Regions from separate parts of the Homo sapiens genome. Here region 2 is linked to region 1. A link means that fine-mapping ties the variant in region 1 to the expression of a gene that starts in the linked region. Tissue or cell type: whole blood. Region 1 holds a variant in brackets; the other region holds the start of a gene. All regions are shown on one strand. Distances are between the middles of the regions.

Region 1 (6,060 bases):
TCCGTCTTTATTCTGATTTTGTATTAAAAGGGTACATTTTAAATTTTTCACTAATTGTATTTACATCTTTACAACAAGGCTGTAATATGTCTTAATAAAGGGGATAAAACAATAAGATTAGTAGATATGACAGTAAGGAATGTGTAATGAAAAAATCAAAGAGACCAAGATTTTCATTCCATCCTGCTGTTTTCCTCATTATGTCATGATGATAGGCAAGTCAGCCTCTCTAGGCCTCATTTTCATATCTGCACAATGAGATTAGGTTTTGTGGTCCCCAAGGTTCTAATAGCTACCCCAAGTTTCTCTGCTCAGTCCTTTGAGAATGATCTAATAGACCATTGGACCATCTAGCCCAGTGTTTTTTCCTGGAAGTAACAAAAAGTAGAACCACCCTGCCTCCTGCTCAGTAGGACTTTTAGGGTTTTTTCATAGCATATGTTTCAAAATATGTTTTGAAGGTAAGTAGCATTTTGATAAGGGAAATCTTGCATTTTGGGCCCATGCAGGGCAATTCCATGATGCAGTGTGGCCCATAGCATTTCGTGGTTAATCAACTGCCTGTACTTAGGCCAGAGGAACTTGTTAAAGTAAAAATAGCTCTAACACAAAATTTTTACTATGTGTAAAGCATTGTGCTAAATGTTTCACATATATCATTGCATATAATTCACACAATTACCTAATGGGGTGAGTGTTATAACTGTGATCATTTTATAGATAAGCCAACAGTCTCTCAATGACTAAAGCACTTACCCAAGGAAATTGCACAACTAAGACTTGACTCAAGACTGTCTGATTTGGGTCCATACCACCCAGGAACACTGGAGACCATATCCTGTAATATACTTTTATCTGTGTGTCTACTCTGGTACAGAACTTTGTGCTCTGAAGCTTTTCAGTAGAAATGGAATAGCAACTCTCCTTACATCAACAGCAACAGCTGTTTCTTAATGAAGTCACCTGCAAATTATGAATTTCTTTCTGCCATCCCTCCTACCCTGCTCCATAATGATTTAATTTGCTGGCATGAGACATTTAGATAAAGTTCCTTTTGATGTTTTAAATGGATTTTATATCTGGAGGGCAAAACATTTTCTTTGCCATAGTTTTTAGATAAACTGTTAATTGGTCGAAGTCTAGTGCAGTTTCCTCTTTACTCACATTTTTCTTCATTGAATACACATAGGGCATTTAGTGTTTATTGCTAACATTTGCCAAATAATTGTGTGCAAAATATTTGTCTCATTTAAATTGGATTTTAAATGTTTTCTTCTTGTTTATTGAGTAATTCTAGAATTTAAAGTTCTCTGGATTTATATTGACATCTTTCCTTTTAAAAATAAATAGTCTGATCACTTATGTCATATGCTTTCTTAACAAACTTTTTCCTAGGTCAAAAGAATGTAATTTTTTATTAGAAAATAGTTTCATTATTACAATATTGTTTTATTCAGATCCTCTGGGAGCTGATATCTCTGCATTAATAACTATACCTATTCCCTGCCTACAGCAGATTTCTTCCACTTTATTCTGAAAGATTGAAGGTATGCACTCAATAAATGGATCATATGTCTTAAGAAATCATGGGAAAAAATATTTCTGTACCTGCATTTCCTTTTAAGATCAATAGAGTCTATAGCTATAGAAGTAAATGTTTTCTTTTTTATGGTGGACTTAATGTATTCTAAAGAGAGAAAGCAAAAAAAATCCTTTACAATCTTTAATTAGATAGATGATAGATACATATGTCCATATTATATAGGTAAAGACTAAGTTTATAACCTTATTTTTCAGATTTTTTTTCATGCTTACCGGGTAAAGAGTTACTTAATTTTTGGTTTAAAAAGTCTTTCATCTTTATGTTTGAAAAGTATATATGATTGTATTTTATTATGATTATATGTTAATTCTAAAAAATACCCAAAATATATAAACTTGTTGCATTAGATTGGAAGCAGGCAGTGTGAAAAAGGCAAAAATAAGACCAAAGAAGAAAAAAGAGGAATTTAGATGGTTAAAAGCCCTGCTTAGAGTAGAATATTCTGGGAACCCAGCCATTACTCAACTGTGAACCCCTCGTGCCCAGGTTCCCACTGTATTTCTACCTGAGTCTCTGCCCACTCCTTGCAGAGGCTATAAAGAGCCGCCCCAGGCTTTCTTTACTCTGTGCCTCATTACTGATCATTATGGAATGAGGACTGGGTTCCCATCACAGATTATTTTTGTTATTTATATTGATTTGGGAGCTGAGTTTAGCATAGTGTATACATACTGAAATGTTGTCTCGGCATTCTGTTAGGCTACCTACTACAGAAGAAAAACCAGGTTAGAAGAAACACAGTGAAAGTTCTATTCCAGGTCTTTCGTTTGTTAAATAATTGAGCACTTCAGTCCTCAGTGTGGGGCAGATTTCCTTAAGACATTGATAGTTAATGACCCCTAATATCTAGCTTATGATTTCTATGTTCCTGTTATTTTTTCTGATCTCTTTGTGCCTCAAAGCTAGAGAAGTCAACTGTAACTTTTTTCAAAGGAATAAGCATTGCCACATTTCTGAGTCTGCTTTGCCCGGAGGCATCCCATTTTAGTTCTCCTAATTTTTTCCAGCTTCTCTCTTCTGAAGGAGGTGGAAGATTTCAAGTAAGGATAATGTCAGTGGGCTGACTTCTGTTGAAAACAAAACCCTCCCAAAATGTTTTATGCTTCACAAATACATTTTAAAACCGTTTGAAATGAAAGCTACAGTGTATCTCTTTGAAGCTAGCCCCTAAAACCTGTCCCAGGTTTTACCTGGAGGCATCTTTGTTTTGCTGTACCAAGGAAAACATTCCTATTTCTTGCACAGTTAATTTGTAAGGCTGTACTTAGGCAATAGTGCCTTTATTCGTTCATCTCAAGCTACAAGCTCTTTAGTTCTTTCTGATCATGTCATCATGTCATCATGTGCATTTTTGGGATCTTTCAACTTCCTTTGACATTCATGAGGAAAAATATTACCAGTGGTGGCTTTCAGCCCTAGGCTTGTAGTGTCTTTCTGTGACCCTGCGATTGCTCTTTTAACAAGCAGACCAAGTGAGCCTGAAAACATCTTATTCAGAGACTAAAAATAAAGTGTGCTAAAATCATAAAAGCAATAGCAAAGGCACATATAGATAGGTTTTAAAGAGATGGCA[G/A]AGTAAAGAGACCCATCATCTGGCTCATAGAATATACTAATAGAGAACCCAGGCCAGAGAGTAATTGAAGGGCAGTTACATCATGGCTGGGGATCCACTGTGATTAAAAGATACATAAAGGTATTTATGTTGTCTTTCATTAGTTTGATCACAAATCATTTTGTAATATTCACTCTGCTCAGAGACTGCATAGGCTTTAAACAAAGTCTCTTAAATTGATGATTTTATTATTCTTTTGGTACTTTCTAGTAATAGTGCATTATATATAACTAATTGTATTTTTATTACGTTACTGTCCCGTAGTTATTAAATACTACATATCAGGATTCAGCAAACCTTTTCTTAAAGGGCCAGATAGTAAATATTATAGGCTTTGGGCACCAAGAGACAAAATCAAGGCTATTATATTGATACTTACATTACCATTTTAAGATGTAAGCACCTTTCTTAGCTTGTGGGCTGTGGTTTGCCAACCTCTGGTCTTTATGGTCACCTGGTAAGTCTTGCCTGGTAGCTTTTTCCCACACACACTTACTTCTGTAGTTAGGAATCCTCTGGTACTTGCCTGATATTAGGAGTATAAACATGAATGTTAAGATGGTTCTTTTCTTAAAAGATCTCAGAGTCTCAGAAGAAAGAAAAATACATAAATATGCTTATTACAAGTGTTGATTATAGTGTAACATGATGAATGCCATCATTGATGTGCAGAGTGGGTATTGGGGAGGGCTCCTCATAGAAGGTAACCTTGTGACAAGCTTCCAAGGTTCACCAGGCAGCAGAGGGAAGGCAGAGTATTCCAGGAAGGGAGATAATATTTATGCCTTAATTTTAGACGTTTATTTGGGGTTTTTTTTCCTATCTCAGTGGAAGGTCTGAGTTTCCAGATAATAGCAGAGACAATATCAGTTCAGTGACAAAGAACTTCTGCAGAAATCCTGAGGAAAAGCAGAATTGAATTTTATAATTATTATCCAATAATTATATAGCTAAACAGGCATACCATTTAAAGCATTTGATTTCTGCTTCTGAACGCAAGTTATTTTTCTTTAACAGATAATGGTCATCAAATAAGTTAAATCTCAAACATATAGATTTAGACACATAAATGATGAGGTTTAGTGGATTAGGATTCTTGAGGACTCTATTCCATACCCAAGTTTGTTACTAACCGTAATTTTGAGCAAAATATGTGGTGGCTACTTAATCATCTTTAATATGACAAGGTTGAAGGGTGTGATTTCTAAGGCTCCTTTTAATTCTAGATATAATTAGAATGCATATTGATGGATACTTTTTTCCTCTGCAGAAATCTAATTTGGTGTTTCAATTTTCCTTTATGGCTTTTGAGTTCAGTGCCATGCTTAAAAGACTTTCCACATTGCAAGATTTTAAATAAATTTATATGTAAGGTTCAAAAAGAAGCTAATTTGATTTGTCAAAATTTATCCAAATTCTGAACTCTCACTTATTAAAATTCTGAACAACCTCAAACCCCTGAAATGTAATAATGTACCATGTGAAAAAAAAAAAGAGTAAAGATTTGTGGTGACCCTGTAGTTACCATAGAGTCCCCAAATGCCTTGTAACTGGGCAGTATTGCACAAGCTCCGAAAGCAGACCGCCTGCATTCAAATTCCGATTCTGCCACATGGTAGCTGTGTGACTTTGGGCAAGTTCCTTAGCCTCTCTGTATCTCGGATTTTCAGTTGCAAAACGGGAATCATATAGGACCTGTTCCTGGGGTCATTATGAGGATTAAATCCATTAATAGTTATAAAGGTCTTGGAACTGTGTTTGGCAAAAATAAGCACTCAGATTATGTCAGTTATTATGAGGATAATTATTATAAATAATCTATTTTAAAAGTGATATTAAGTTAAAACCATGGAAATGTTTTAAAATAAATGTTAATGCCATAGGAAATTCCTCAGATACAATGCTGAACAGAAACACAGGTAAAAAAAACTATATATGGTATGCTTAAAATTCCCACAGAGTTAGATATGAACAGAAAATATACTGGCAGGAATCACATAGAAGTATTAGTATGTTTGGCAGCTAGTCTACAAAGATAGCTCTCTAATGAATCATGCCTCCCAGAAGTCACACCTTTCTGTTTTCTTCTCCTTGAAAATGAGCTGGACCTCTATCATCAGTAAAATTCAGCAGAAGTGCTACTGTAAAATTCCTAAAACTAGGTCATAAGGAGCCTTGCAGCTTTTGCTTGTCTTAAAACACTTGCTCTGGGGGAAACCCACCGCCACTTAAGAAGTCCAACTACTGTGAGACCCAAATGCAGAGAGAAAGCTCAAGCTAGCTAAGTGGAGAGATGTTTGTTTCACCAGCTCTCACCGTTCCAGCCAGCCCAGCCCAGGTGCCAGACAGTGAGTGAAGAAACCCTTAGATGATTCCATACCCCCGGGCACAACTCCAAGTGAGAAATGCCTGGCTGAGTTCAGTCAACCCTCAGAATCAGGAGATGATAATACATTGTTATTTTAAGCCATCATGTTTGAGGTGGTTTGTTGTGCAGCAATAAAAAACCCAATACAATGAATTTTCTCTAGCAAAAGTGTATCATATATAAGAAAAGCAATAATTTAATCTCTTTAAATAGTTCTTTTTTCCATATAGGTTCAACAGTAAGAGTTGACTGTATTTTATGTATGTTTTTATATTGTATATTTGGTTATTCTTAATTAACCTACAAATTAATTTAACTAGAACAGCCATTCATTAGCCATGCCAAATAAGTATAAATGTATTGGACTTAGAATAATTTACATGTAAAAAATATAGAGTCCACGAAGTATATTTATTCCTGGACAAACTGTGTACAAATTCTGTACTACCTATTACAGAGAATTTCCTTTTTCTAAGA
Region 2 (5,492 bases), 160 kb after region 1:
CTGGAGGTGGACAGATGGAGTTCCAGTTTTTGCCTTAGTCTGAAACCGAGGCAAGAAACTTTTCACAGATACTGAACAAAATGAATAAACCTATTATTAAAATGACATCTGGATACTTAGAAAAGGAAGACACAATTTTGTAGACATGAACCACAATTCACTAAGTAGTCATTTCCTTTGTTTTTTGACAATATTACAGTAGAGCAAAGACATCCAATAGACAAAGCTCATCTGCTGTCTGTTTGGAGCTGCATCTAGGCGTAAGGGGTCACTTTTTCCTAATCCTTCAGCTAAGGTGAGAGTGGGGATACCTTTTTCTAATTCTTACAAAAGTGCCACGTACCCATGTACACAGGCTGCTACCCTGGGACAACAGACAAAAATAGGACAAGGTAACATGTGGGTCCTCAACTGATAAGAATGTTCATCAGTAGCATTCAAATCCAGTGTCGGTTGGCAGAGGAAGGTACCTGAGAATGAGAACTTAAATGATGGCATGGCATACAGACCGGATTTACAGAGGTCATGAAATTGAGAGGTGGAATTACTCAGTTATATCAATGATACCCAATATGTCAACAAGCTAAGAGGCCTAATTTAACACAATAAAATTCAGTAGAATCACAGGTAAAGTGCTGAACACTGCATTGAGTGTAGTTGTTTAGTTCAGTGATTCTCCAACTAAACTTTTAACACTTTAAGGTTTTATTTGGTAGATTGTAATATGGAGTCAGCTGGGTAATATTGCTGCCATGGAAGCTCCAAGGATATACTTAGGGAAATACAGTAATTACAACAAAGCCATTAAACATCTTTCTAGTTTGTCACTTGGGTGAAACCTTGAATTCAATTCTTGGCATCAGGGTTTGAGAGAGATGTTGGCAAAGTAAATCTCCTCCTGAGAGCTTTCCTAATGGATGAAGAAAAGCTGATGGAGTTAATATGTACCCAGGTAAATTGAAGTATTCTCCTGTGGAATCAAGGCTAGGTGTATCCTGTAGATTCCAGAGAGCAGAATAGCAGATCTGTTGAGACTTACTGTAATGGGGTGGGCGGGGGCGGGGGGACGGGGGGGGCTTTGCACAAAGTGAATGTCATCCAGAGGCCAATTCGCAGGTCACTCAAAAGCAAAATTGTGGGGGGTGTGAGGGTAAAGGGGAGCAAATGACAGTCAGTACTACCTCCTTTGAAGAATTCTCAATCCTGGTTGTACATTGTGATCATCTAGGAAGAGATTTTAAAATGCAGATGCTGATGCTTAGACCCTAACCTCAGAGATTCTGATTTGTTGTTCTTGCGTGGGGGTCCCCATTGGAAAGAATTTATTATAGCTCCCCTGCTGATTCTAAAGTTCTAGGTTGGAGAATCACTGAACTAGACTACTACTTGCTGAGAGGTTACGTAAATTAAACCAGATGTTTTTTCTAAAGTCTCTTTCAAATTTGAGAAGATAAATGGAAATTAACACTTACGGATTACATAATACAGCTAGACACTTTCACAATTTATTCTAATAATTGAATTAGTATATGTAAATCTCTTAGCACAGTGACCGTCTGATATGGTGTAGTAAACTCTCAATAAACATTAGCTATTTTTATTATATCCTCTCCATAACTGTTCAAACAAGGTATTATATTGTTACACTATAGATGAGGAAACTGAGGTTCTGATGTTAGTTTTCCAAGGCCCACAGTAGTAAAAGCAAAGTTTGGATTTGAACCAAAGATTAGTTCCAGTTTCCAGAGCCCTCTTCTCTCCTCGACAGGCCTTCCCTAAAGCATCAAGAAGTTTATGCAAATTAGTGGTTCACCTGAGTGAACATTTAAAAAATTTAATAGTACCACTTCCTCTTGACCTGTTTGTAAGGAGTTCCTCTTAAATGCAATTTCTGAAAAAGAGAAGCATAAACTGAGACATCCACATTTTTTCCTTATTTGGCCAAATAGAAGTGAGAACCTCTGAGGATAGAGGAATTGGATGGAGGTGCCCTTCAGAACTCATGGAGAAAAGCACTGCTCCCAGTAAAATATCTCTCATTCTAATGAATGGGTAAGTATCCTACAAATCTTTCACTTCTGTACAATCTAGGTCTGGTAGGTTACTTGCACACACTGGGTGGAGGTGGAAGGGGCAAAGTATTCCTGAGGTGATGGCCCTGATCCTACCTCACATCTCCTTGGGGCCTGGTTGGACCTGGCTGAGCGTGTTTGAGCAGTGGCTGATTTTTGGAAAACAGGAGGACTCTTCTCCAGGAGGCTGTGACTACCAAGGTTGCAAATGCTCCACCTGAACTTGGGTGCATGAGGGATCTCTCTCTCTCACACACACACACCCCCCCACCGCGTAAGATAAATTTCTGTTTGTGAGCTGCCTACATTAAATGCTTTGCTCCTGACCTTCTGTGATTAAAATCTGTTCCGTTTGCAGGGTTCGGTGCGCTTGGATTTAGTGTATTTTGTTGGTACAGTAAAAAAGAGAACTGCTTCTCTATAGGTGACCCCCGCCCCAAAGTCCCCCCTCCCACTAACTTCTCTTTGAGAAGAGAGTAAAACCGAATTCGAGAGAAAAGAGGCAGTAACTATTCGGGAGGAGGCAGACTGGAGTGGGCACCAGTCCCGGTAGTAAGAGTCTTAACGTCTTCCTCGCTTTCCTCTCGCAGAGTAGTATGGAAGCATCAGCTCCTCCCCCTGGGCCTCCAAAAGTTACCTTTCCTTTGGGTGTGATTCTCGAACCCGAAGCGTTTGAGTCCTAAGAAACTAGAACAAGTTAGAGCCAAAGAGGCCTGGCGGGCGGGGGTGCGGGTGGAGTCCGGGCCGGGTGGCGTGGAAGGCCGAGCACAGCTGCGAGCGGCGAGTCCCGGGAGAGGAGGAGCGGGAGAAAGCGGGGCGGGCCTGCGGTCGGGGTTCGGCCGGGGGAGGGGGTCCCCGTTTCCCTCTCCTCATCCTCGTCTCCTCTGGCTCTGGTGACGTTGCGGTTTCCTCCCCCCTCCAGCGGAGCCTCAGCGCCCGCCGCGTCCCTCCCTCCGCCCCTTTCGCCCACACCTACCCGCCCCCGCCGGCCCGGCTCTCAGTAGCGTCGCCCGAGGCTGCAGCAGCGCATCCCGGGGCATGGCGCGGCGGGGGCGCGGAGGGCTCGGTTCGGAGGGGGCCGGGAGCCCGGGCGCCCTGGAGTGAGGAGGACCGGGAGCTGGCTCTGGAGGCTGCGGAGGCGACGCCGGAGAGAACGAAGCCTCGGCTGGGAGCGGTAAGTGGAGGGGCGCGCAAGGGACGAGCTGGGGCGCGCGGCGCAACTTTCTTCGGGAGTTTCGGGCGGGTAGCCTTCGGGGCTGTCCCGGCGCGGGCGGGAGACGGAGAGCCACGTCCCCGGCTGAGAGCGGAGCGCCGCGGGTTGCGCGCCCGGGCCCGGCTCGGCTGGACTCCGAGAGAGCGCCTGACGCGTGAAGCCTGAGCCACGGGCTTCCCCGGCGGCGGAGCAGCCTCGAGGGGCAGCTTTTCGATCCTCCCCACCCCCTTGAACGCCGAGCACCGAGCCGGGAACACGATGAGAACCTGGAGATCGCATTCCGTGCGTCGGATCTGGCCGGCCCAGCCGCGATTTCCTCGACGGTCCTTGGGGCCTCGGCTTCACTCTGCGGGGTTGGGTGGCACACCCTCGCGTCCTCCTTTCCCTCCGTACCCCAGCCATTTGGGGGCAGGGGAGGTGGCGGCGGCTTGTGTGCAGATCCTGGCGCTGGCAACCCTACTTTGCGGCTGCAGAAGCCGAGGAAGAGCTCCCCAAGCCTCTCCCAGACGCTGGATTCCAGCGCTCCTGGGCTCCGCCGGCACTCGGAGAAATTGTTAGTAAACCTCATCCCCGAGGCAGTCCCGGGGAGGGGAGGAGGCGGGGGCTTGACTCACAGACTGGGAAGCTCTGAAAGCGATGCCACATGGGCTCAAGATCTGTCGGGGCTGGAATCTGAGCTAAGTTTGTGACCTGAGAACTTTTTCGTTTATATCGCTCCTTTAAAGCAGCAGCCTCCTCTTAAGCCGGCTGGCATTCAGATGGAAACCGAAGCCTTTGGTTAAAATCAGGAGGTGAACCTCACTTACCTGAAATTCTTTAGGTCAGGCAATGACGCTTTTAGTTCTAGGAATCTTCGTGTAATAAAGTTCTTTTTAAAAATTTTTTCGTTGGTCATGGTTTAGAAAGTCATGGTTTAGCACTGTTAATTAAATGCATGAAAGATCTCACTTATACATATTTTTAGTATTTTTCACATTATAGAATTTAAACTTTAAGTAATTCCCTCAAGTTTTTAAAAAATTTCTCGGCCGGACGCAGTGGCTCACGCCTGTAATCCCAGTACTTTGGGAGGCCGAGGCAGGCGGATCACGAGGTCAGGAGATCGAGACCATCCTGGCTAACACGGTGAAACCCCGTCTCTACTAAAAATACAAAAAATTAGCCGGGCGTGGTGGCGGGCGCCTGTAGTCCCAGCTACTCGGGAGGCTGAGGCAGGAGAATGGCGTGAACCCAGGAGGCGGAGCTTGCAGTGAGCCGAGATTGCGCCACTGCTCTCCAGCCTGGGCGACAGGCTCAAAACAAAACAAAACAAAATTCTCAATGATAATCTCTATGTGAAATAGTGATAAACAATATTGTATAGAGTATTCTAACTATATTACTAAATGGGATCACAAAAAACCTAATGTGCATGGAAGAAAATAAAATATAGGATTATCTGAGTATTTGTTTCATGCAAATACTTAGATTTCTGTATTGTGACCTCTTCCTTTGACGGTCACGATACAGATATAAGTTCTTTTCTGAAGTATGTAGGTAAGGTCTGTTCTAGTAAAAATGGAGAAGATAACAGATTGAATTTGATGTCTCCATCACCTAGTGACCCGTCTGTGTGGGTTCAGCAAAAAGTGCAAGATAGTGCTGGTTACCTAGGTTACATACACAGGTATATGAGATCAGCCTTAGCTCTCTTGGAGCTGCTAATGTAGAACCTGAGAAACATCAATAAGCAGCACTTCCTAAGTTTGAGCTTGGGAAGAGTTATTTTTCATTGACTAGTATATGACGTCAGTATCCGTTTTTATGAAGTTTTAGTTAAATAAAAACACTGGCCTAAAAAGTACATTCTGACAGTTTAAAAAATACTGAAAGTACAGTCACCAAGTGAAGGGGAATTAAAAAAAAAAAAAAGGGCTGGGTGCGGTGGCTCACGCCTGTAATCCCAGCACTTTGGTAGGCCGAGGCAGGTGGATCACCAGGTCAAGAGTTCGAGACCAGCCTGGCCAATATGGTGAAACCCGGTCTCTACTAAAAATACAAAACAAAAAATAAATTAGCTGGGCGTGGTGTCGCGCGCCTGTAGTCCCAGCTACTTGGGAGGCTGCGGCAGAAGAATCTTTTGAACCCAGGAAGCGGAGGTTGCAGTGAGCCGAGATTGTGCCACTGCACTCCAGCCTGAGCGACAGAAGAAGACTCCATCTGAAAAG

What was found. PIP is the estimated chance that this variant, and not a neighbour inherited with it, causes the effect.
Region 2: it holds the start of DSE, and the variant in region 1 is fine-mapped to the expression of DSE in whole blood (TOPMed, PIP above 0.99).

The regions. Positions count from the first base shown.
Region 1 is chr6:116,205,669-116,211,728 of GRCh38, forward strand. The region is part of intron 6 of NT5DC1 (5'-nucleotidase domain containing 1); the gene reads left to right. It also overlaps a transcript of COL10A1 not described here. Among named protein-coding and RNA genes, the nearest start is that of TSPYL4, 45 kb to the right of the region's middle. The variant G/A (reference allele first, on the strand shown) is at 3,177.
Region 2 is chr6:116,367,876-116,373,367 of GRCh38, forward strand. It overlaps DSE (dermatan sulfate epimerase), which reads left to right and starts at 3,072. Exons shown (of 6, transcript NM_013352.4): 1 at 3,072-3,246. LOC100287467 (a long non-coding RNA gene) reads right to left here and starts at 3,844. Exons shown (of 1, transcript NR_148944.1): 1 at 1-3,844. RefSeq lists enhancers at 1,879-1,928, 3,443-3,943 and silencers at 2,859-3,388, 3,151-3,445.